Homo sapiens: one gene and its partners. The protein of the gene in region 2 purifies or fractionates together with the protein of the main gene of each other region. This does not show direct contact. Each region holds a gene or a part of one and is shown on either strand. Other genes may lie near its edges. The genes, in order: NOC2L, CPNE2, RNF138, SUPT5H, EBF3, NEK3 and TXLNG.

Region 1 (2,777 bases), on a different chromosome or scaffold from region 2:
CAGGGAGCAGGGGATCGACGGGGAGACCCTGCCACTGCTGACGGAGGAGCACCTGCTGACCAACATGGGGCTGAAGCTGGGGCCCGCCCTCAAGATCCGGGCCCAGGTGAGACGCTGGGGAGTGAGGTCAGGGTCTCCAGACCACAGCTGGGCAGAAAGCTCTGGGTGGGTGTGCGACAGCCCCCACCAGGCCATCTCTCTGCAGGTGGCCAGGCGCCTGGGCCGAGTTTTCTACGTGGCCAGCTTCCCCGTGGCTCTGCCACTGCAGCCACCAACCCTGCGGGCCCCGGAGCGAGAACTCGGCACAGGAGAGCAGCCCTTGTCCCCCACGACGGCCACGTCCCCCTATGGAGGGGGCCACGCCCTTGCCGGTCAAACTTCACCCAAGCAGGAGAATGGGACCTTGGCTCTACTTCCAGGGGCCCCCGACCCTTCCCAGCCTCTGTGTTGAGGTTGCCGGGGGTAGGGGTGGGGCCACACAAATCTCCAGGAGCCACCACTCAACACAATGGCCCTGCCTCCCACCGCTTTATTTCTTTCGGTTTCGGATGCAAAACAAAAAATTTTAAAAGAAAATGTGACTTCAAAGGAAAGGAACAAATTTTCAAAGACTTGGGGGAGTGAAGGCAGAGCCTGGTGCAGATGGACGAGGTCTGCAGACGGAGGGCAGAGGTGGTGGAAGGGGCCAGGGGCCTGCAGGCCTCCCCCTGGAACTGGGACTGGTCTCGGTCTGCTGACGTCAGGGTCAGCTCCCCCGCGGAGCTGACTTCAGCAGCCCACAGCTGTGGGGCTTCAGCAGCCACACCAGCCCAGCCCAGCCCAGCTCTCGATACGTTTGGTCTTTCATGCTGAAAAATAAATAATAAAGCCTGTCCCGTGTCTACTGCCTCCCCCAACTGCACAGACGCCAGCCTCTAGGCCTGACTGCCAGGGAGGTGGAAACACTGGCCACCAGCCCGGCAGCCCCTACAGGCCCCCCAGATGGGCTGCCTCAGTCGTCCTCTGAGAGCTGCAGATCCTCCAGCTCGTCCTCCGGCCCCTGGGCCAGCTGCTGCAGCTCCCCAGGGGCCAGCCCCGCCTCTGCGTCTGGGTCTCCATCTGCGGGGAGAGATGGAGGCTACATAAATTTTGCTTTATCAGGAAGAAGCCAGCCTTAGAGGTTACTCATCACTAATTAATCACGGCACTAATTAATTTATCCCTGTTGCTGGCTGCCAGAGAACAGAGCATTTGGCCTGGCCTTCCCAGGGAGGGAAAAGCCTGGCCCAGAGCCCCACGCCCCCCGCCCACGTGGCTCTGCCCTCCCGCCAGATGGGCTCACAGGGCCACACCCTCTCACCCCAAGACCATTCACCCTCCGAGTTGCTGCTGTCCTCCTCGCCCTCCTCCTCGTCCTCTTCATCGTCTTCCACCCCATGCCGAGTGCTCAGGGGCCTCAGTATCCCTGAGGAACAAGAAGCAGAGTCCATATGACTCCCACCCACAGGGTCCACCAGCAAAGTCACAGTGGGGGCAGGAGGGTGGCCAGGCTCCCAACACCCTTCCCTCCGCTGACTTCCAGCAGGTGGAGAGGAGCCCTGGGGAGGAACTGGGAGGTCACAGGCCTGGGGACAGAGTTACCAATCCCAGTAGGCCTTCACTTCAAGGAGGGAAGGCGCTGGCACCAGAAGCCTGGCAACACTGAGGTTGGCCCCAGCTGGGCCAGAGACTGGTGAGCCCCCTGCAGGATGGGTACAGGTGGCCCTCGTGGCTCTGGGAAGTCCAGCAGAGCCCTCCAGGCCCACCCTTCCCCTGGGAGCACCACGCAGGCCCCACCTCTCTCCGAGAATCCCTCGGTGTCGTCCTCTTCAGAGCTGTTCAGGTCAAAGAGGTCTTTAAATTGCTTCCTGTCCTCATCCTTCCTGTCAGCCATCTTCCTTCGTTTGATCTCAGGGAAGTTCAGGTCTTCCAGCTGGAAGGCCAAAGAACCAGGGGCTCAGGTGAGAGAGGGCAGGGGCTGGCGGCCACAGCAGGGCCAGGCATCGCCAGACCCACCACCAGGGCCCCATGTGGCCAATTTCTAGTCCCCTCTGTTCCCAAATCACAAAGCCATCCTCCAAGTTGTCCATCCCATGTCCAAGGTCAAAGGCAGAGCCCTTCCTGCTTCTCCTCACGGGCCCCTGGTGCCCACATACTGGCCTGGGTGACGAGGTCAGTCCAGCCACTCCACCTGCCCGGAGCCTCCAGCCCATCAGGCCTGAGGGGGCATGGCCTCCCCAACCTAGTGCAGCCTGGGGCTTCCCCTCCCTGGAAACGCCTGGTTCTGGCCAGTTCTCCAACACCTACCCCCTCTCCAAGTCGAATCATCCGGGCACGGCCCTGGCCGCCTGGCACTGTTTCCAAACCCTCGCCCTGGTCTCAAGTCATAGTGCGCTAGATCTGAAACCCAGGAAGTCACAACACACCCCCAGGTCCCCTCGCCGAGCCGCACCCGCTCTTTGCCACTGATCTCCAGCTGGATCTCCCGGTCACGCAGCTTGCGCCAGTGGCTGTAGTACAAGGTCAGGGGTGTCCCCTCTTCCCGGGTCAGCTTCTCCCAGGCTTCCTGGGGGGTTGGGGGAGTTCAGGGTCATGCCTCACCCTGGGCAAACCCCCACATGTAGCTGGGGCTATACCCTGGCAGGTGCCCTCAGGTGGCACTACCCCCAGGGCCCACTAACCACTGCCTGCTGCTCAGAGACGCCGAAGGAAACCCTCTGGCGGCGGCTGCAGATGTATGCCGAGTTCTCCTGAACCTT
Region 2 (3,500 bases):
CTGTCCAGCCCTGGGGAAGTCACTTAACCTCTCTGTGCTTCAGTGTCCTTGTCTGTGAGCTGGGGATAGTGAGTCACTGACGATGACCACAAGAGCCTGGCACAGAGTAGGCATTGTACAAGTTAGCAGAATGATTTCCAGCAGCCTGCGAGGTCTTGGACCAGCTGCCTTGACTCTGACTTCCATTTTCCTGCCCCTCTGCTAGTACGACAGGACAGAAACCGCGATCAACAACCTCAACCCCGCCTTCTCCAAGAAGTTCGTGCTTGACTACCACTTCGAGGAGGTACAGAAGCTCAAGTTCGCGCTCTTTGACCAGGACAAGTCCAGTATGCGGCTGGACGAGCATGACTTCCTGGGCCAGTTCTCCTGCAGCCTGGGCACGGTGAGCTGGGCCCTCCTGGGTGGGAGCAGGGGCCCAAAGACCGGGCAACCCCTCAAAAAGTCTCTTCTCGTGCTGTCTTTCCCTAGCCCCATCTTCCTGGGTGGGTCCCAAAGTGCAGATGCAGAGTGGGGAACAGTCTTGGCGGGTTCAAGGCCGGGCTGAAGAGCTCCCATCTGGAGAGGCAGCCAAACAGAATGCCTCTCAGGATCTGGGGCCCCAGGTGGCCAGGGATTCCGATTGTTAGATATAATCAGGTGTGGTCTTGACCTCTGGGGGTAGGAGCATCTGACCAGCAACCAAGACACCCACAGTAGTCCCGCTTTGTGGCAGACTCACTGTGTGACCTTGAGAAACTTCCTTTCCCTCTCTGGGCCACACTTCCCCATCCATCTCAGTCCTTGGTAAGCTCCTGGAGGCCGGGAGCAAGCGGGGCTAGGCGCCCCTGACACAAGTCTCAATCATTCCTTATGGCTGTATGCCCTTGGATAAGCTCCCATCCCCCTCTGGGCCTCAGTTTCCCCACATTTTCCTTGGGGATTATGATGACTGCTCTGCCCAGCCTACATGGTTGATAAGGGAATGAAATGGAAAATGCTTTGAGGGGTCCTAGTGGAGACTGAAATGCCCGGGGCCTTCCAGGAGATGGTGACCATGCAGAAAGCAAGGGACTGCCATGGTTGTGATGTCTACTTTTTGCGTAAGAAGCAGGGTACAGTAGTCAGGGTCCCTACCCTGTGGTATAACTGAGAAGAGAGCTTAAGGGCTTGTGGACAGGGCAGGGAACTGACAAGGGATGGGGAAACCAGTCCAGGGCTTGGCCCCAGAGGAAAGCTGACCACCTTCACCTGGAAGGAAGGCAGGGTGAGGAAGTGGCATTGCCAGGGCCTGGTAAGACCTGTGGCCCATAGAGGGAGGCCTCTGGACTGCAACTGAGGCAGAAGACAGAGTAATGGAGAAGCTCCCATCAAACGGGGGCCCCCACCTCTCACGCCACCTGCTCTCCCGTCTCCTGCCCATCCCCCCAACTGGCTGAACCTCTGAAAGCCAGAGGGCAAAAGAGCCAGGTGGCACAGTCCCCAGGGCACAGAGCAGGTGTGTGGATCTGCGGAGAAGAACTAGCCCCACAGGAGCAGGACTAGATCATACTGATGTGTGCTCCCCGCTGCACAGGACGACGCTCGCACTGCACCCAGGAAGCACGAACCATGCTGGCCCCTGAGTGCAGTGGGCAGACACAGGTGGGAGGGTGACTTTGCAATGTGGCCCACTTTTCCTCTCTATGTTGTTTTGATTATTGCACCCTGTGTAAGTGTATTACCTATTGAAACCAATAAAAATAGAAAGAATTGGCCGGGCTCTATAGCTCATGCCTGTAATCCCAGCACTTTGGGAGGCCAAGGCGGGAAGATCGCTTGAGCCTGGAGTTCGAGACCAGCCTGAGCAACATAATGAGCCCTTGTCTCTACCAAAAAAAAAAAAAAAAAAAAAAAAAAGCCAGGCGTGGTGATGCATGCCTGTAGTCCCAGCTACCCAGGAGGCTGAGGTGGGAGGATCGCTTGAGCCCAGGAGGTTGAGGCTGCAGTGAGCCGTGATCGAGACCTGTCTCAAAAGGAAAATACATAGAATCTGAGCTTGACTCTGTCCATCAGAGATCATATCCTGAGGCAGGTGGGGTCTGTGGAATGCCTCTGGAGGAGGGAGTTAGGGGGCTAACCTCCCACAGTTGTCTCCAAAATGCCTTTTCCTAGGGGCAAACCAGGCAGTGGGAGTCCAACTGCAGCGGGAGACCTCAGGCGGGTCTCTTACCCTCTCTGGGCCTCAGGCTCCTCACTGCCCAGATTGGCTGCTGTCCACCTCCCAGGGTGATGATGATGCTCAGGCGGGTCACCAGCCAGCCAGGGCGGGGTGCAGCCCTGCCAAGAGGATTTTTCCGGTGCCGGTGGAGGATTTTTCCTTCCCGGGCTTCCCCCGCTTCCTCACTGAGCGCCCTTTCTCCTCTCTCCCCTAGATCGTCTCCAGCAAGAAGATCACTAGGCCTCTGCTGCTGCTGAATGACAAGCCTGCGGGGAAGGGCTTGATTACGGTACCAGTCCCCTCCCGGCTCTCCGCACCCCCTCCATCCCCACCCCACACCCTCCCCCATCAATGGGCCGCTTCCCTGGCAGATAATCACCAGCTTTGTTTGGAGTAAAAAGGCCCAACTTACAACTTAGCAACAGGTCTCTTAGCAACCGGCTGCTGGCTCCACAAATGATGCAGTGGGGGCTGACAAGCTGGGGAGGCCTCCAGAGCCCTGCCAGCAGCCCCCTCCCTGCACTGGCCCCTGCCTGCCCTCCCCTGGGGGTCGTTCAGAAGTGCCCTGCCCATCAGTGCCCTGCTTGTGGCTGCGACGCGCAATGATTCCTGCAATGCGCAACGACTCCCGCGATGCGCAGTAATTCCGCTGGAGATGCACAGGCCCTTCGCCCGGATGAGCTCCTTGGTCTTCAAAGACTCCCAGAAGCCAGGGCCACCCCTGAGACCCAGAGAGGAAGTTCCCTGGGGCAGCTGAGCTAGCGAGATCGTCCCCTGGTTGTCTGGCTGGCTTCTGAGCCCACGCGATGCCTGGGAAGCCGGCCAGGCTGGAGGGAGAAGCCATGCCTTTGTGTGTTCCCGTGTGTTACTCCCCTGTCCTGGAACCTCACATGGCTCCCCACTGCCTGACCAACCCTTCGGTTCAAGGCTGTGAAGGACCCCTCAGACCCTGCCTGGCTCTCCTGCCTTGGTGTTTTTTTAATCTCCTTCACTTAAATGCCCTGCGTTCAAAGCAAACTGAATTCTTAGCATATCCTGAACATACCTCAGGCTCTTACTCTGTTCCTGCCCCCACGGATCACCACCTCCCAAACAACCTCCCCCAACCTCTTGGTTCCTAACTGGCCCATCTAAATGCCTTCCCAGGCCAGGTGCATGGCTTGCACCTGTAGCACTACTCCTTGGAAGGCTAAGGCAGGAGGATCCCTTAAGGCCAGGAGTTTGAGGCTGCAGTGGGTTATGATCATGCTACTGCCCTCCAGCCTGGGCAAGAGAGTGAAACCCCATCTCTGAATGAATGAATGAATGAATGCCTTCACAA
Region 3 (3,500 bases), on a different chromosome or scaffold from region 2:
TCCAATATATTATCTCATTTGATCCATACAATAACCATATAATTATTATTAGTTTTATTTCATTTGTAAGTAAAATAAAAATGAAGTAAACTGGAAAATTTACTTTAAATTGTATCCTTAGTTTTTCTTTTCTTTTCTTAAAACTAGAGACACAGTCTCACTGTTGTCCAGGCTGGGTCTCAAATTCCTGAGCTCAAGCAATCCTCCCGCCTTGGCCTCCCAAAGTGCTGGGATTAAAGGCATGTGCCACCACACCCAGCCATATCCTTACGTTTAAATGAAGTACATCTTAAAAACTGAATGGATAAATAACTGAAATAACACACAAAAAACCTTCAGTAATTAAACTCTAGCCAAAGTTTATGATATATCGAATATTATGCAGAAATGAATAAAAATTTGGTAATCCAATATAAAACTAAGTAAAATCTTAAATATGAGCGAGATTTCCTGGAACATCTTTGGCACTGTATTTGTCTATTTAAGCATAACTGAACCCATTCTAATAAGCAAAGTAGGTAGTACACCTTCTTAGGTGGTATGTGAGAGCTTAAGGTCATCCTCAATGGTTATTGAAGCATATTCTTTTTATTTTCTTTATTTTTAAATAGACAGGGTCTCACTATGTTGCCCAGGCTAGTCTCGAACTCCTGGGCTCAAGCAATCCTCCCCTCTCGGCCTCCCAAAGTGCTAAATTACAGGCATGAGCCACCGTGCCCGGTCCTGAAGCACATTCTTTCACAACTTTTCCTAGCATACTCACTAAAACAGCTTAGAAATATCTACAGTTCTTATTGATAACATTTTCCTTCCTATTCTCCTTTCTGAAGACAATTATTTATATATCAAAATGTTCAGCTGAAAGGGAAATCTCTCTCCCAGCTCAGTTTCTCCTGTTCCATTCACAGCTGAAATAACTTACCTATGAAACACTTCTAGGATCATTATATGTTGGAATCCTGAATTCTGCTCTATCTCCCTCATTATCAAAAAGCTCTCACCATTTTCTTACATACCCTCAAAATGTCAAAAAATATGTAGGCATCAAATACAAAGTCTAAGTCTTTTCCTTCCTTGCTTTATGCATTCACATACTATATGCTGCAAGAAAACAATAAAAATACCTACTGACTTTATTCTTACTTACAGGTATTTTCACCTACAGCAATCTACCTGACTAGATCTACTTGTCTGCCATCTACAGAGCAAGTAACTGAGGCCTCAATAGACAGGTTGTGCTACTGCGCAGGAATGAGTTCCCGGTTCATCTTTCATTACTTCACTCTTCTCCAGACTGTGCTATATTACCTCACACTATGCATCTCCCTTTTTATAATGAGAGTTACTGCAATTTTAAATATCTCATTTTGCTTCACAGTCATCAATCCTTTGTTGACAAAAATCTACCTTACTGATAATGCCCCAACCAAATATAAATCAACTACTTTCTCTTGCATACATGAAGTGAAATAAATAGAACAGCATGTTTTATTCTAAGCAGAAGACTGTCTCAAACGTATGTACTTACCACAGGAACTATCTGAAATAGGTGATTACTGTTACAGTGATCCAGTAAACGCTGTCTGGTAAAATTTGATTCTTGACACAGGGGACACTTAAAAGTAGGATGACCAGAAGAACTATAAAACAATTTTAAGTGAAACATACTTAATTCAGAATAACACAAAAATAACGCTCTCCTATTTTTTGAGGAATCACTATACATTTTTTAAAAAAGTTATAATTATTAGACTATTCAAAGATTCTCTCATTTTGAACATATGTATTCAGGAAATGATGCATTACAGAGGTTCCCAATCTCAGTTTACAGTACTCTTAGTGTCCTCAATAAATTTTTTCATGGCACCTCTAGGCCAAAACAAAAACAAAAACAAAAACCTAGCTGACTCCATATATTATGTAGTTAGGTCCAAACTTAATTGTAGTTGTTTTCTGATGCCAATAGCTGTCACTGTATGTCCCTTGAAAATTTTTAATATTCTGTAGTATTCCACATTTTGCAAACCTTTTATCTAGGAACTTAAAACTTCTAAAAGACTTCCATCAATATCGTATCTCTAATAAATACCAGGCCCTAGGAATCCAACATCCAAAATTCAAAGGAAAAGAAAAAACAAAAGCACTGATCATGAGAATGAAATACTCGAAAACATTCTGAGGATCAAGCATCACTGAGTTTTAATACTTCTGAATTTCAGGAAGGGACAGTTCAACACAGACAACTTTACCTGAATCGTGTGTGGAAGAAACCTGACCACAGTGAAAGAGAATAACTAAACTCTTCTAACCTAATGTGATTCTTAAAAGCAGTAACTGCATTTTCTATTTCTAAACTGCTAACTTCAAACACTATGCCTAATGATGTAACTGATTTTTTTTTTTTTTTTAAGTTTAATTTATGGCCAGGCGCAGTGGCTCATGCCTGTAATCCCAGCACTTTGGGAGGCCAAGGCAGGTGGATTATCTGAGGTCAGGAGTTCGAGACCAGCCTGGCCAACATGGTGAAACCCTGTTTCTACTAAAAATACAAAAATTAGCCGGGCGTGGTGGCAGGCACCTGTAATACCAGATACTTGGGAGGCTGAGGCAGGAGAATCACTTGAACCTGAGAGGCGCAGGTTGCAGTGAGCCAAGATCGCACCACTGCACTCCAGCCTGGGAAAACAAAGTGAGACTCCGTCTCAAAAAAAAAAAAAAAAAGTTTAATTTAAAAAGCTATTTGATAAGTGATAAATATAATATTACTTGCTAAAGTGGCAGGATTTTTCAAAAGCTTACCTTGTATTCTCTTGGTAAGTTTCTGTGTTATCAGATGTGGATGTTTCACTCCTATTGCTTAAGAAGCACAGGGGAAAAAGTTAATACCTCAAAGTAATGAAAACACACTAAAGGTTCATTATCTTGAACCATTAATGAAGAAGACTAGTCTGAATTTGTTTTAAAAGTCTGAACTTCAATACACCTTTTTCCTATTGGGTCCTTGAAAAAACAAAATTTGAACTTCAAATGGTTCTGAACTATGAAATAATTACAATATTAATTACTTTTAAATAAATTGACTGCTTACTAGATTCTTATTTATGTTCTTTAAAATTAACTTATGCACAGTTACAGAAGTATAGAGAATTTTGCAGAATTACCTTAAATCCCATTCCTCTACCTTTACCTAGACTAGTAAGGTTTTAAATGCTACGGTAGACTCAAGAATTTGTGAACTTTTTTACTTCAAACTAGGACATGGTATAAGGTTATGCCCTCCAAAGTGCAGTAATTTAAGAAAATATGTAAATGTTCATTATGTTTGTATTTTATTTCCAGAAAGGAAAGAAACCAGGCTTCACTAACATTTAATATACAGAACAACTTAACATCTCCACTTTTACCATATGCCAGAGAGTCATGTGTCACATGGAATATCAGAGGAATCCTGAGGGAAGAGTAAGTATTCCATACAGGGACCGTCACCTGTGTGCTACAGA
Region 4 (3,500 bases), on a different chromosome or scaffold from region 2:
TTCCCCCCATGTAATTTTTTTTGTTTAGACCGAGTCTTGCTCTGTCACCCAAGCTAGAGTGCAGCAATCTCGGCTCACTGCAACCTCCACCTCCCGGGTTCAAGCAATTCTCCTGCCTCAGCCTCCCAAGTAGCTGGGATTACAGGCGCCCGCCACCACGCCCAGCTAATTTTTGTATTTTTAGTAGAGACAGGGTTTCGCCATCTTGGCCAGGCTGGTCTCGAACTCCTAACCTCAGATGATCCACCCGCCTCAGCCTCCTAAAGTGCTGGGATTACAAGCATGAGCCACCACGCCCAGCCCCCACGTAATTTTTTTAACACACCGTTCTGTACCTTTCTTTTTCTCAAAACTACTACTAACTCAGAGCTCTCCCACAGCAGCACATGCCTCATATACTATATGGCCCATAATTTGTTTAACCAGGCCCTAATCATCAATAAACATTTAGGTCACCAAACTTTTGCAACTGCGAACAGGACTACAACAAGCATCTTTGTTCTCAGGTCTTCATGCACTCATGCAAGTTTAACCATAAAGTAAATTCTAAAGAGGAACTGCTTGGTCAAAGGGTTCCTGCATGTTAAATGCTAACAGGCACTGCCACACAGCCTTCCACACAGGCAGTGCCCACCAACACTTCCACCACCAACATATGGGTGTCCCTGGGAACCCACAGCTTTTACCCAGCATGGTATCCATTCTCTTGCTCTCCAAGAACATCCAGAGCACCTCCTGTCCCTTTGACAATAAACTACTTTTCTTCTCAGGTAAAACAGTCCCAGGAAAACAGAGGCAGGATGTGTTCTAAGTAACCCCTCTTCCCATAGGTAAGGGAAAACATGCACATTCATTATCATCATGGAAGTATGAACTAGTCTTATCTTTTTAGGAACTGATATTTGGCCGTAAATATAAAAAATCTTTTTTTAAAAAAAGTGCGGCCAGGCATGGTGGCTCACGCCCGTAATCTCAGCACTTTGGGAGGCCAGGGCGGGCGGATCACAAGGTCAGGAGTTCGAGACCATCCTAACACAGTGAAACCCTGTCTCTACTAAAAATATAAAAAATTAGCCAGGCATGGTGGCACGTGCCCGTAGTCCCAGCTACTCAGGAGGCTGAGGCAGGAGAAACAGTTGAACCCAGGAGGGAGAGGTTGCAGTGAGCCATCGCACCACTGCACTCCAGCCTGAGCGAGACTCCGTCTCAAAAAAAAAAAAAAAAACAACGACAACAACAAAATGCACCACCTTTACCTAGCAATTTGACTAACAGGGATTTAACACGTAGAACAGAGATTTTTCATCTGGGGTGGTCTGTGTTCGATGAAAAAACTACAGCTCCTATTTTCAGTAACCTGGAATTGAAATTTAGCATTTACATCAATTACATACAATGGCAACAAACCACACAATGTTAGCTGTGTCACTGGCTCTTTCACAGCACATTACAGCTATAGGTATCTCAAGGCAGCATTTACACTCACTGCTACTTGAAAATTAGATTCTCAGACTACCTACAAAGTCTTATTACCTAAATATGTTAACAAAGAAACATATGCACCAAAATGTTCTTTTTAAATATTCTGATAACTGTACTTCAATAAATTGTCCTCTTTGGAATCCTATGTATTTTGTTTTATGCATTTCAGAAGATGATTCTGAGAAGGGAACAGGGTTTCACCAGACTACAGAAGGGGCCGTAGCACGAGAAAAGTTAAGAACTTTGGTCCTTCACGCCTGTAATCCCAGCATTTTGGGAGGCCAAGGCGGGCAGATCACGAGGTCAGGAGATTGAGACCACCCTGGCTAACAAGGTGAAACCCCGTCTCCACTAAAAAATAGAAAAAATTAGCCGGGCGTGGTGGCGGGCGCCTGTAGTCCCAGCTATTCAGGAGGCTGAGGCAGGAGAATGGCATGAACTTGCAGTGAGCCAAGTTCATGCTACTGCACTCCAGCCTGGGCGACAGAGCGAGACTCCGCCTCAAAAAAAGAAAAAGAAATGGAACTAAAAGTAGAAGCTCAGCCTCTGCTCGGCACTGGCCAAGCACTATGACATACCAGCCTCGTCCAGAATGAAGCCTCCATGGCGGGGTTTCTTGGGGGGTCGGTCATCATCTTCTTCCTCCTCTTCCTCATCGTATTCCTCCTCCTCTTCCTCCTCCTCTTCGTCCTCAGGCTCTTCTTCTTTCTCACTGCCCGCTGCACTCCGCCGCTCTTCGTCTACCTACAGGGGTCAGGCAGGGTTGTAGCACCAGAATTCTGCTACCCCAAAAATCCAAAAACCAAGTTCCTCACCCTAAATCTGACCTCAGATTGGCCTGGCCAATCATAGCCCACTTTGCTCTGCATATATCCCTTTCACTCTAGCCTGGCCTCTCTGGTTACCATCCTATCTCAGCGACAGCACTGCCATCTCCCCAGCCACCCAAGCAACCCTGGGAGTTGACCCGGGCTTCTCCCTGCACTAGACCTCTTGCTCACTTTCCACCGAGTCTTTAACTATAATAGCTTGATGAAGCTTGGTCCTTGGGCCTCATTTCTTTCTCTCTCTTTTTTTTTTTTTTTTTGAGACAGAGTCCCACTCTGTCTCCCAGGCTAGAGTGCCATGGCAGAATCTTGGCTCACTGCAACCTCCACCTCCTGGGTTCAAGCAATTCTCTTGCCTCAGCCTCCTGAGTAGCTGAGATTACAGGTGTGCGCCACCACACCTGGCTAATTTTTGTATTTTTTTAGTAGACACGTGGCTTCACCATGTTGGCCAGGCTGGTCTCGAACTCTTGACCTCAGGTGATCCATCCGCCTCTGCCTCCGAAAATGCTGGGATTACAGGTGTGAGCCACAGCACCTGGCCCATCTCTTCCCATTCTACAACTCCCCAAGGCCATCTCGTCCTCTCCCTTGGCGGTGGTGGACATCTCTGTGACAGTGACTCCCATCTCTGTTTCTAGTCCACACTGCTCACGAAGATCACTGGCCACCCCTGTTGCTAATTCTGTGGCCATTCTGTATTCCCTACCATCCCAGCAGCATCTGGCACCCCAACCATGCCCTCCCTGGAGAAATGCTCCTCTCTTGGCTTCTGCCGTATCATGCTCTCCTGGTTTTTCTCAAAACTCCACCAGCTCCTCTTCAAGCTCCTCTTACTGTTAACCCCTTCAAATCTGACATCAATTACCAGGGCTCAGTCCAGGGCCACTTTGTTCTCCCTCCATGCCCTCTCTCCCTGTCCATTTTACTTTCCATGACCTCAGTTCCTGTCTCTAGAGATGACACGTGTCCTCATCTGTCTATAGAGTCCCACTTTTTTCCAGAACTCAAGACCTCCATGCACCAGCAGCATCCTGGATGCCTCCCCTAGATGGCCTCTGAGCCCTTTCATACTCACTGTGTCCCAAACTGACCTCAGTGTCTTCCCCTAGACCTGTGATGGCCTCCTCCAATTACCGACAGGCACCAAATCCTCATCCTTTCTGCCTGTAAACATCATTTCTCCAACCC
Region 5 (3,500 bases), on a different chromosome or scaffold from region 2:
CCAAAAGTGAAATTCACAGACAAGAAATACTTTAATTAAATATTGTGTAAAATGAACATTTTTATACAGTTAAATATCTGAAAAAATGTACAGATAAAACAATCTTATTGTAGGGTCTTTAACAGTAAAATCTACCATTTAGTGAAGTGCTCAGTCTTGAGACAGTGAAGTGATGTGGGCATTGACTACTTAACCTAAAACACAAACCAAGTGAGGGCATGGGGAAGCTGGCAGGCGTTCTCAGTGCGTCCATGTGAGCTCTTTTGTAGATCAAACCCTTACTCGTACAAAATAAAATGGAGGCAATTTAGTTCCAAAGTGACTTCTCAGGCTTTCCCATGTAGCTAGACCTTGTCAACCATCACAAAGCCAGACTGTGACCTGCTGACTCCTGGGGACATTCTGTTTATTTAATTTTGTCCCTAGAATGAACACTTTGTAAGTTGTGCATTGTTGATTTTTGTCAAGAAGGTATTTTAAAGTCCCTCCTTTTTGTTTTAAATTCGATTTCTGCTGCAGTTTGCAAAATGTTTGCTGTGCCGTGTCTGCAAAGCACTTAGTGCAAAGGAGAAAGAAAAAAAAAAAAACACCTGACACTTTTGGTCTCACTGTGGGTTTGGCACTAAGAGGCACGATATCTGAAGGAGGTCATTCCAGTTTTAAAAGTACGGACAGTGCTGTTGGAACTGACCACAAAAATGTATTGTTAAAAAAAAATTGAAAACCAGCAGTGATTTGGGTCCCCCTGAAACCTCTGTGAATCGGAGGTGGGCCCAGGAGGGTGCAGGACGCAGCAGAAATAGTCCCAGAAAGGAGAGACGGGTCATGCAGCGGGCTTGTGCTTTTTTGTGTGTGTTTGTGTGTTTTACACCATACATCTCCAAATGAAGTATTTATTAACAATTGTAGTGTAAGCCTGTGATAAAATAGCACAAAGGTTCTTTAAAGAAGTTCACTTTTAAGGCATCAGAAAAGTTAATGTGGCAAACATTTTAATTAAAACATCAGAAGTAAATTTTATTTTAAACTTTAGGCCTCTGAATTTTTCCAGTAAACACAGTTCAGCTATGTGGCAAAGTCAATGGGTGGCATCTAAAATGACTTTTTACATTCTACAAAAAAATAAAATAAAATAAGGACACAGCCCCAAACGGTGTCACCTCTTCGCGGCCGCTCCACATGCACAGAATCTACTAGGATTTGTCACGGCCGGGTGGCACCGATTTGTTTTGACTATACAACAAACTTTTTTTTCAAAAGTATTTGTTCAGATAACTTAAAAATAATATAAAAATAAACAATGAATTTGACTTTTCCTCAAAATAAAAAAAAAAAGGATGGAAAGTCTAAACAATAGCATATTTTTTGAAGTACAAATGAAATGTAAAGACACTGGTTCAGCTTAACGAAACAGATCAAAGAGACAAGTTCTTGGCTAATGCTCTTCCCAGTATCACAACACCAGGCCGTGATCAAAAACCAATACAGACAAGAAAGAAGAAAAAGGAAAAGGTGGGAAAAGCAATGTACAAAATTTCAAAGATAAATACAATATTTATAATTGATATGTTACAAAATAAAGTCCCTTAGCAACTGCAAGTGTTCATGGGAAAGTAAGTGTCAAATGAAGACCATTTTATTCCTTATAAGACACATAAGGAATAAAACTTGTTTTTCTAAATATTTTAAGTGGATCTGAAAAAAATTCAAGACAAGTGTATAAATATTTAGCTACAACTTTGGCAAAATCACAAAAGTCTACAATTTTATAACCACATACAAAACACATTAGGGAAGAAGGATCTAGAAGTCAAAAGGACAATTTCTGGTACAAGAAACATAGACCTCACAGTAGCCTAAGAATGCAATAGTATACAGTGCTAGCAAAAGTTGAAAAAATGTTGCAGATCACACTTGCTTAACAGGAAGCTCTAGCAGTGGGAGAATATTGGAACCAACAGACAGTAGCATTTTTTCTCTGTCAGTGTGCTTGTTGAAGGCAAGAGAATTCAATATCAAAGTTACAATTTCTAACTACAATAAGTTACAAAGTTTCATTTCATGAAGATGAAGTTAAGCAGTGATAAACCCTCCCTCCCTCCCTGCCACCCCAGTTTCTCCTCATCATATAGTCATCCTTTTTTCCAGTCTGATGGCTCATACCTCCTTGGCCCTCTTTTTATCACCACAAAAAAATATTTCACATTATAGAGATACACAACCATTGTGAATCTAAGTATGAGTACAGAAAAATGTTTGGAGGCATTTTTCATCAGCGTTTCATGATCATCAAAATGGTGCATTCACAAAGTTTCTCCCAACACATAGCAATTACTAGACATGGCCAAGACGGAGTCGGAAACTTTATACAAAATAGGCGTCGCTTTGTTTTCCTTATTCTTCAGGACTGAGAAATGTGAAAATATGAGAAAAGTTCAGTCAATAAAATGGAATTGTTCATGAAGAAGTAGGCTGTTTGCATGTTGATTCTTAATAGTTTAAATAAAATCTTTAAACAAAGTCTTTTGTAGCATTTCAATTGCTGCTGATTTTTTTGAAGATACTGTTTCCATCAGCATGTCTTAATATACTAAACGTGTCCCCTGAAGTCCGTCCTTTGATGCTGGGTGCTGCGGAAGGTAAACAGAAGTCCCTCACATTGGCGGGACTACCAGCCCAGACATAGCTGCAAGACAGAAGGACAGAGCAGTTACTGCAGGCTCCCCCACGCGCCCTCCCGCCAACGCTGACGCGGGCGGGGCTGCCCTTCCCCCCTATTCAACTGGGAGGCTGGTCTTGCACAGTTCCGTCCACCAGCCTCGGGCGTGGTTAGGGCGTGCTGGGGAATCTGCTTCCTGAGGTGGGGGCACACGTGGGGACAACAACCCCCAGTCCTGCCCCTCCTGCAGCCCTCCTCAAAGGCTTCTTTAAAGGCTTCTTTTGGAAAAGGGAAGGGCTCCTGGCACTGCTGTGTGCAGAGGCTGCAGCTTCCCCACACTGACCGGTGCACTGCCAACAGGTGCAAAGCCAACGGAGGCCCGGAGCCCCCTCTGTCGAGAGAGGTGACCCAGCCTGGTCACTCCCGTGACGCCAGTCAAGGCCGGCTCACAGGCCCTGCTCTCGCTCCCTATGTGAGAACCAGACTGGCCTCAGTTTCCCCCTCTGCTTCCAGGTCTGGGCTCTGACCGTGCGGTCATCTCTCTGTATCGTAATGGTGAGTCAGGGGCTCTCCAGAATCAAAGCCACTCACAGCCCACCTGCCCTGGAACCTCCAGGCAAGGGCCACGGAGAGACGTGAGTCATGGCACCGCCTCGGGACCTTTTTTCTCTTCTCAGGAAAGAAGAGAAAACTTTGCACGAAAACGCCAAGTGGGGCTGACGCTTTCACATGAACTCCTGGTACGAATGTAATTTAAAATCTTTTACCGCTGGTGTTGTTTAATTTTTGTCAGAATGATCGTTCTCATTAATTTATGTATAACATATTAATACATTTGTTC
Region 6 (3,500 bases), on a different chromosome or scaffold from region 2:
TTAATAATTTCTGCTTGTCGAATCTTGCTTAAGAAATGATTCTACACCTCAAGGCTATGATAGATGTTAATTACAGTGTGGGGTATATAGAAGCTTTTTGTATTATCTTTGTAATTTTTCTGTAAATCTAAAACTGTTTTAAAATTTAAAAGAAGTTTATTTTTTAAAAAGTGTATTGTCCTATGAATATAAAATGTAAGTGAATATATGAAAAAGAAAAATCAACACATAACAAAGGACAGATTGTGATAATGACAAATACTACTGAATCTGCTTTGCCTCTGGCTTTTTAACCATTACACCAACTATCTGTGTTTCCTAAAGGTTTGAGAACAACTTTTGTCTTCGAGCAGACAAGGGATGACAGATCTCATGCCAAATATTCAGGGCACTATAGTCCTTAATACTCATTCTTGCTGGAAAAAAGAAGAACGTATACATGTAAATTATGAAAAAGATACATCAGGAAGTAAAGAATTGTAAGATGTTGGAATTTTAAAAATAATTTTATTTGTAGACTATGGTGGTTCTCAACTTGGGCTGTACATTGTAATCACCTGTTTTAAAAACATTAATGCCCAGGACATTTTCAGAGATTTTAATTCAATCACTGTGCTGTGGGCCTAGGCATCAGCATTTTAAAGGTTCCCCAAGTTGTTCTAACTGTGTAGCTATCATTATAAACCACTTATATTCAAGGAAGATAACCTCTCATTAATACCAGGTGTCTTCAGTTTGAGCTACTTTCATCTGGTAGTGGTGAAGATTGTTTCTCAACCATTCACCCTCTCCTGAGCTCTATGTGCCCTCAAGTACATCTGTAAAAAAGCTAACCTTCAGCCTGTGCCCAAAGAACAGAATTTATTTCTATGCAAAGCTAAGAACTAATAGGAATTGGCCCTGCAGTTGTTGTTCTATATAATAAACAATGGCTGAACAAGCGGGACAAGTTATTTAACCTTTTTTTGTTCATATTTTTAAAAATATCTTGAAAAAACACATTATAGGGCAAAGTCTATGTTTTCATGATGTTTCAGTTAGAGAGGAAACTCATATAAGTGAAATCTAACTGCAAAAAGCTGAGGAAAAAAATGACGCGGCCACTCTTGCAAAGTTTGCTGTTTCCTCAAAAAGCTAAATACAATTACCATATGACCCAGCAGTTCCACTGCTAAATGTAAACCTCAAAATTTGGAATCAAGGACTCTAACAGATACTTGTACACCATTTGTTCATAACAGCATTATATACAATAGCCAAAAGACAGAAACGACCCAAGTGTCCCTCAACAGATGAATGGATAAACATGTCTATACACACAATGGAATACTATGCAGCCATAAAAAGGAATGGAATCCTGATAGATGCTACAACATGGATGAACCTTGAAAACACTGTGCTAGTGAAATAAACCAGACACAAAAGGGCAAAAGTTCTATAATTCCAGTTGTATGAAATACCTAGAATATGCAAATTCATGAGGCAGAAATTAGATTGGGACTGGGGAAAGGGAAGAAATGGGGAGCAACTATTTAATGGGTACAGAGTTTCTGGTTGGGGTGATGACAAAAGTTTTACAAAGAGATAGTAGTGGCCGGGCATAGTGGCTCATGCCTGTAATCCCAGCACTTTGGGAGGCCGAGGCGAGTGGATCACCTGAGGTCAGGAGTTCAAGACCAGCCTGCTCAACATGGGGGAAAATACAAAAAAATACAAAAAAAATGTCTCTAGTAAAAATACAAAAAAAATTTAGCTGGGCATGGTGGTATGCACCTGTAGTCCCAGCTACTTGGGAGGCTGAGGCAGGAGAATCACTTGAACCCAGGAGGCGGAGGTTGCAGTGAGCTGAGATTGCACCACTGCACTCCAGACTGGGCAACAGAGCAAGATTCCATCTCAAAAACGAAACAAAACAAAACAAAACAAAAAACCCCCAAAGAGATAATAGTGGTGGTTGCACAATATTTTGAATGTAATTAATGACAATGAATTGTATACTTAAAAATGGATAAAATGGCAAATTTTATATTTATTTTATCAAAATAAAAAATTAAGAATAGCAAAAAGAAAGAAAAGAGGAAAAGAGAAAGAAAGAGAGAGAAAGGTTATGTATTGCACAGCCAAACTGAATAATGGAAATTTCCTATTAGTATATGCTACAAAACTAACTCAGGGCAGATGACTGCACTGGAAACATATACAAACTTTTATAATGACTTCATCCTAGGGAAGCAAACTGCCAACTAGAATCTGTCACATTATTAGGGCTCAGCTAGATATGACAAGCTGCCTTTTCCATTTTGCACGCCATACTTACTGGATGCTTAAGGGTACAGAGTTCATACAGGATGCAACCCAAGGACCAGATGTCACTGAAAGCATAAAGAAGCAATGTAATCACAAGCAGGTTACGTATTTTCTAGTACAAAAAATAATTTCTTACCTTTAATAAGAATAGATATCACAAGTAATTCCTAGGTATTAAAACATATAATGTTGGTCTAACACCTAGATACTTCCTAAGAGTAGTGTTCACAATAAAACTCTCTGCTTTTCAATCCCCACCCCCTTCAAATTGGGGCAGTTGAGATATCACTTCAGTAGCATTTGGGAATTCAGTAGCAAGAGGGAATATTTGCGGACTCAGATGATCACAGCTGGAAGAAGGACTCTGGAAGGCATCCAGTGTAGTTTCTATTCCGACCACCCTGGACACAGCACCCAGCCTTTGATCACATCTCCTGCTGGCAGCTCTCTACTTCCCACACAGTCTGCTGGATGGCTCTAAGGGATAGGGTTCTTCCTTTTCTTTGAGATGGAGTCTTGCTCTGTTGCCCAGGCTGTAGTGCAGCCTCACAATCTCGGCTCACTGCAAGCTCTGCCTCCCGGATTCACACCATTCTCCTGCCTCAGCCTCCAGAGTAGCTGGGACTACAGGCGCCCGCCACCACGCCCAGCTAATTTTTTTTTTTGTATTTGTTTTAGTAGAGACAGGGTTTCACCGTGTTAGCCAGGATGGTCTCAATCTCCTGACCTCGTGATCCGCGCGCCTCAGCCTCCCAAAGTGCTGGGATTACAGGTGTGAGCCACCGCGCCCAGCCCACCTTTTCTTTTTTTTAAGGGATGGGGTCTCACTGTGTTGCCTAGGCTGGAGTGCAGTGGCTATTCACAGGCATGATGTCACTGTACTGCTGCCTTGAACTCCTGGGCTCAAGCAATCCTCCTGCCTCAGCCTCCCAGGTAGTTGGGACTACAAGCACACACCACCAGGCCCAGCTCCTCCAGACTTTTCTAAATGATATTCTTTTTTATTTTAATTAATGGTTTTTACCAACTATTTCCCCGTTTAGTTTTTTTAAATTTCAAATCTACAGAAAAGTTGCAATGTCCACATGCCCTTATCTAGGTCCCCCAATCATTCTCATTGGCCATGTTTGCGTGCTAATCTCCCTCCTCTATATCTATCTGAATCTCCTGAAAAAAGGTTGCCCGCCGGGCAT
Region 7 (3,500 bases), on a different chromosome or scaffold from region 2:
AACCCCATCTCTACTAAAAAATTAAAAAAACTAGCCAGGCGTGGTGGCGAGCACATGTAGTCCCAGCTACTCAGGAGGTTGAGGCAGGAGAATGGCGTGAACCCGGGAGGTGGAGCTTGCAGTCTGCTGAGATCACACCACTGCACTCTAGCCTGGACCACAGGCGAGACTCCGTCTCAAAAAAATAAAATAAAATAATATAGCTGAGAACAAACTCTTTGATAAGGTCACTGTTTCTAGAAAATGGAAAAAAGGATGCTTGACACATAGTAGATGCTAAAGAAGTATTTCTGAGACAAAGTATTGTTTTAGCAGATGATTTCATGTAACTCACAATCTCAATCAAAACAGTCCTCAATCTCTAGAATTCCCTTAGGAAAAGTTTAAGACAGGAACCACTACACCCCAACTGAGTGGCACCTAAGGCATCACAACATAGCAATGGAAAGGCTGACTTAGACTCTAAAACTGAGTTTTAGAAAATCTATGCCACATCTTAGTATTACAATGTTCCCTATATATTACCTCATAAAATGAAACTATACAACCAATAAAAAGCCCCAACAAAACAGATTCTCTTCTTCAATTTCAGAATAAAATATAATTTTACATTTAAGGCCATATCAAATTTGTACTTTAAGAAACTTATCAAGCACACACACATTTTGTTATATTTTATATGGCTCTCACATCCTTGGCTTAATACTCACAAGATCAGCATATTTCTTACAGAGAGCTGCCAGCTTCTCCTCTGGGGTTGAAAGGGTGTTTAGGGCTTGCATCAGTAATAAAACTTCTTTTCCTGATGGTTAACAAGAAAAGAAATAAGTCCCAGAAGAATGAGATCAAATCTAACCTGTAAATTCTACTAACAATTCCCGTGCTCTGACATCCAGAGTAAACTAATTTACACCTATGATTATAAATAAGAGATTTACCAGCTCAATGAAAAAGGCAATTTTTAAATTCTGGATTAGCAGGCCTCGCTCCCCTCCCCATACCCACCCCAAATTTCTTAACTCATTCACTAACACTGCGAGCTATTTATAAGAACTCTTGTTAAAAGCTTATAAATTTCCTTGCCTAATCACTGATGTCCAAGTTAAGACAAAGGGCAAGTTACAAAGGGCATGGAATTTTTTTTAAAGCTTCCTCCTAACCAAGTTCGAATATAGAAGCAAGTTCAAAGGGAGTTTCAGTTGGTACTACACTTTGCCAAAGACACACATAATCACAGGAGAACATATCTTTTCCTACGAACAATTTAAAAACGTGTGCTTTTCTTATGATTTACTAAGTATATTCTGTGTGTTAACTAAGGTTAACTAACCAAAGGATGACAAGATAGCTCTTCCTGTGGGGAAAGACCTTAGCAATACTGTAAGGACTTTGGCAGAGAGAGGCAGGTGGCTGAGATTAGGAGGGGACTAATGGCATTTCGAAGTAAGGGGTAATCTTTTATTTCTTAAGCTAGGTGATAGGTACCATTTTTATTTTTTTAATGTTCATTCTTATATGTAAGATATTGCATCAAAATATATATCTCAAAATAACTCTGACATACAGACTGCTATGGGGGAAAAAGGGTGACTTCAAAAAAGAATGCTTTTCTACTCACATAAAATTTTATTAATGAAATCTTCTCTCATTTAACCCAAGGCCAATAAGACCTTTAAGAGACGATTAAACACAATTACTGAAAATGATCAGAAATAACTGCAATGTGGCCGGGCACAGTGGCTCACACCTGAAATCTCAGCACTTTGGGAGGCCGAGGCAGGAGAGGACTGCTTGAGCTTAGGAGTTTGAGACCAGCCTGGGCAACACAGTGAGAACCTGTCTCTACAAAAAAAATTTTTTAATTAGCCAATTCTTGATTATTTGGAAAAAAAAAAAACTAAGCGTCCTCTCTGCTGTTTTCGCCTCCTGCACATAACTGCAGCAGACACATGGACTGACCTCACCGAAGACACTAGGGGTGTTGGCTAAGCACCTCTAAAGTGGCTGTGTTCAAAATTATCTGGGCTGCAGAAAACACAAGTAAAATGATTAGCATGTGAAACGTCCAACCACTGAACGGATTATTACCTAAAGTTTTTTCTTTGTTCCTGTTGCACTCTGAATCTTGCTGACCATCAGGGGGATCTGTTCGAGCTTCTCCCCCAGGGATTTCCTCTCTTGATTCTTGCGTGCAGTATGCTGGGCTCACCAAATTCCTGTTCTCTGTTATAAAGTCACTGCCTTCATCCTCTTCCAATGAATGCTTGTTACTTGTGCCACCACAATTTGAGCCTTGATGTTGAAGAATATCATTTGATTGAGAGTTACACAACATATCTGCTTTCACCCCTAGCCCACAAATTCCAGCTTCTTCCATTGTGCCAATTTCAAACTAGAAGAAAGGAGAAGGAGAAAAAAGATGGAGAAGGGGTTAAATCTAATGTAATCAATGTTTACAAGCAATGGAACATCATAGCCTGATAGTTTTTTCTTCCTTAGTGGTTTGCAAAATTGATGTAAATATGGTACTTTCTAGGTTTCACTGAGAGGTGACCTAACTATAAAGTATAAGGAAATTAGTTAAAATGAATCACACAACTATTCAGTACCAAAGGAGGCAAGAAACCCATTTAGTTATAAATCTAAATTGATTTCCACATAAAAATTCACCACTTAACATAATTAGCACCTTAACAGAAGTGAAACTGTCCCCAGTTAATGAATATTAATTATTCTAATCTTATCCTCAAGGAGACAGTACAGCAGGGATGGCTAGCTAGCTATCCATCAAAACCCCATGCTCCCCCAAGTTCCTGTGGAGTTGGCACTATGAGACAAGTGCCCAGCCAGGGACTATTCCCCAGCCCCCTTACACCAAGGGGCGACTTCCACGTGAAGTTCCCACCAACTGAATGTGGGCATAGGACACGACTGTCCAAGACTTTTATTCTTAGAAGCACAAGTTCTTTCTCAACCATCTCTCCCCGACTCTGGCAAAATGCAGACATCTCCAAGACCCTAAGGGATGGCAGAGCCACAGGATTAATGAAGCCTAGGCCTCCATATCCTATGTACATACAGGAAAGCCACCCTACTTACAAAGAAAACCTACACTGGACTATAGGTGAACAAGAAATAAACTTCTCTCATGCTAAGCCATGGAAATTTTGAGACTGATATTTTAAGCAGCTATCCCTGCCCTAATACACATGGTAAAGATGCCTTTATTCCAGTATGTTATTCTTATGTCAGTAACTGTCTTCTATCACATTGTTAACCCTATTTGAGTTTTTTCCCCTTGTGAACACTTCCTGGTCATGATGTGGCACAAATTTAAATTCTGTGCATTTACTCTCTGTATGAAAGAGGGCCTCTTCCTTTTCTGAATAATACTGTTGAGGTGAGGAGGTGTTTAGTATCCTTCTCTTATCACAAATGGACAAAAGCTACTTTCAAAATTTATGGGAGAGCAGATATTTGAGATTTTAGGTTATAATCAT

What was found.
Region 1: the proteins of CPNE2 (region 2) and NOC2L purify together in Homo sapiens (affinity purification with mass spectrometry; 2 studies listed by BioGRID and IntAct, with this or other methods). This does not show direct contact.
Region 3: the proteins of CPNE2 (region 2) and RNF138 purify together in Homo sapiens (affinity purification with mass spectrometry; one large-scale study listed by BioGRID and IntAct). This does not show direct contact.
Region 4: the proteins of CPNE2 (region 2) and SUPT5H purify together in Homo sapiens (co-immunoprecipitation; 2 studies listed by BioGRID and IntAct, with this or other methods). This does not show direct contact.
Region 5: the proteins of CPNE2 (region 2) and EBF3 purify together in Homo sapiens (affinity purification with mass spectrometry; 2 studies listed by BioGRID and IntAct, with this or other methods). This does not show direct contact.
Region 6: the proteins of CPNE2 (region 2) and NEK3 purify together in Homo sapiens (affinity purification with mass spectrometry; 2 studies listed by BioGRID and IntAct, with this or other methods). This does not show direct contact.
Region 7: the proteins of CPNE2 (region 2) and TXLNG purify together in Homo sapiens (affinity purification with mass spectrometry; 2 studies listed by BioGRID and IntAct, with this or other methods). This does not show direct contact.

The regions. Positions count from the first base shown.
Region 1 is NC_000001.11:943,703-946,479, forward strand, and holds the end of NOC2L (nucleolar complex protein 2 homolog), read right to left. Parts: coding exon 2,700-2,777; intron 2,585-2,699; coding exon 2,471-2,584; intron 1,952-2,470; coding exon 1,816-1,951; intron 1,445-1,815; coding exon 1,355-1,444; intron 1,099-1,354; coding exon 992-1,098; 3' UTR 501-991; downstream 1-500. Other genes in the region: SAMD11 (sterile alpha motif domain-containing protein 11), read left to right, coding at 1-106, 206-451.
Region 2 is NC_000016.10:57,113,083-57,116,582, forward strand, and holds part of CPNE2 (copine-2), read left to right. Parts: intron 1-205; coding exon 206-385; intron 386-2,393; coding exon 2,394-2,468; intron 2,469-3,500.
Region 3 is NC_000018.10:32,122,874-32,126,373, reverse strand, and holds part of RNF138 (E3 ubiquitin-protein ligase RNF138), read right to left. Parts: intron 2,857-3,500; coding exon 2,800-2,856; intron 1,641-2,799; coding exon 1,529-1,640; intron 1-1,528. UniProt on the Homo sapiens protein: E3 ubiquitin-protein ligase involved in DNA damage response by promoting DNA resection and homologous recombination.
Region 4 is NC_000019.10:39,452,082-39,455,581, reverse strand, and holds part of SUPT5H (transcription elongation factor SPT5), read right to left. Parts: intron 2,227-3,500; coding exon 2,061-2,226; intron 1-2,060. UniProt on the Homo sapiens protein: Component of the DRB sensitivity-inducing factor complex (DSIF complex), which regulates mRNA processing and transcription elongation by RNA polymerase II.
Region 5 is NC_000010.11:129,835,275-129,838,774, forward strand, and holds part of EBF3 (transcription factor COE3), read right to left. Parts: intron 2,687-3,500; coding exon 2,669-2,686; coding exon of another isoform or gene 2,655-2,668; 3' UTR 1-2,654. UniProt on the Homo sapiens protein: Transcriptional activator. Recognizes variations of the palindromic sequence 5'-ATTCCCNNGGGAATT-3'.
Region 6 is NC_000013.11:52,146,098-52,149,597, forward strand, and holds part of NEK3 (serine/threonine-protein kinase Nek3), read right to left. Parts: intron 2,373-3,500; coding exon 2,318-2,372; intron 1-2,317.
Region 7 is NC_000023.11:16,817,466-16,820,965, reverse strand, and holds part of TXLNG (gamma-taxilin), read right to left. Parts: intron 2,393-3,500; coding exon 2,089-2,392; intron 803-2,088; coding exon 711-802; intron 1-710. UniProt on the Homo sapiens protein: May be involved in intracellular vesicle traffic. Inhibits ATF4-mediated transcription, possibly by dimerizing with ATF4 to form inactive dimers that cannot bind DNA. May be involved in regulating bone mass density through an ATF4-dependent pathway.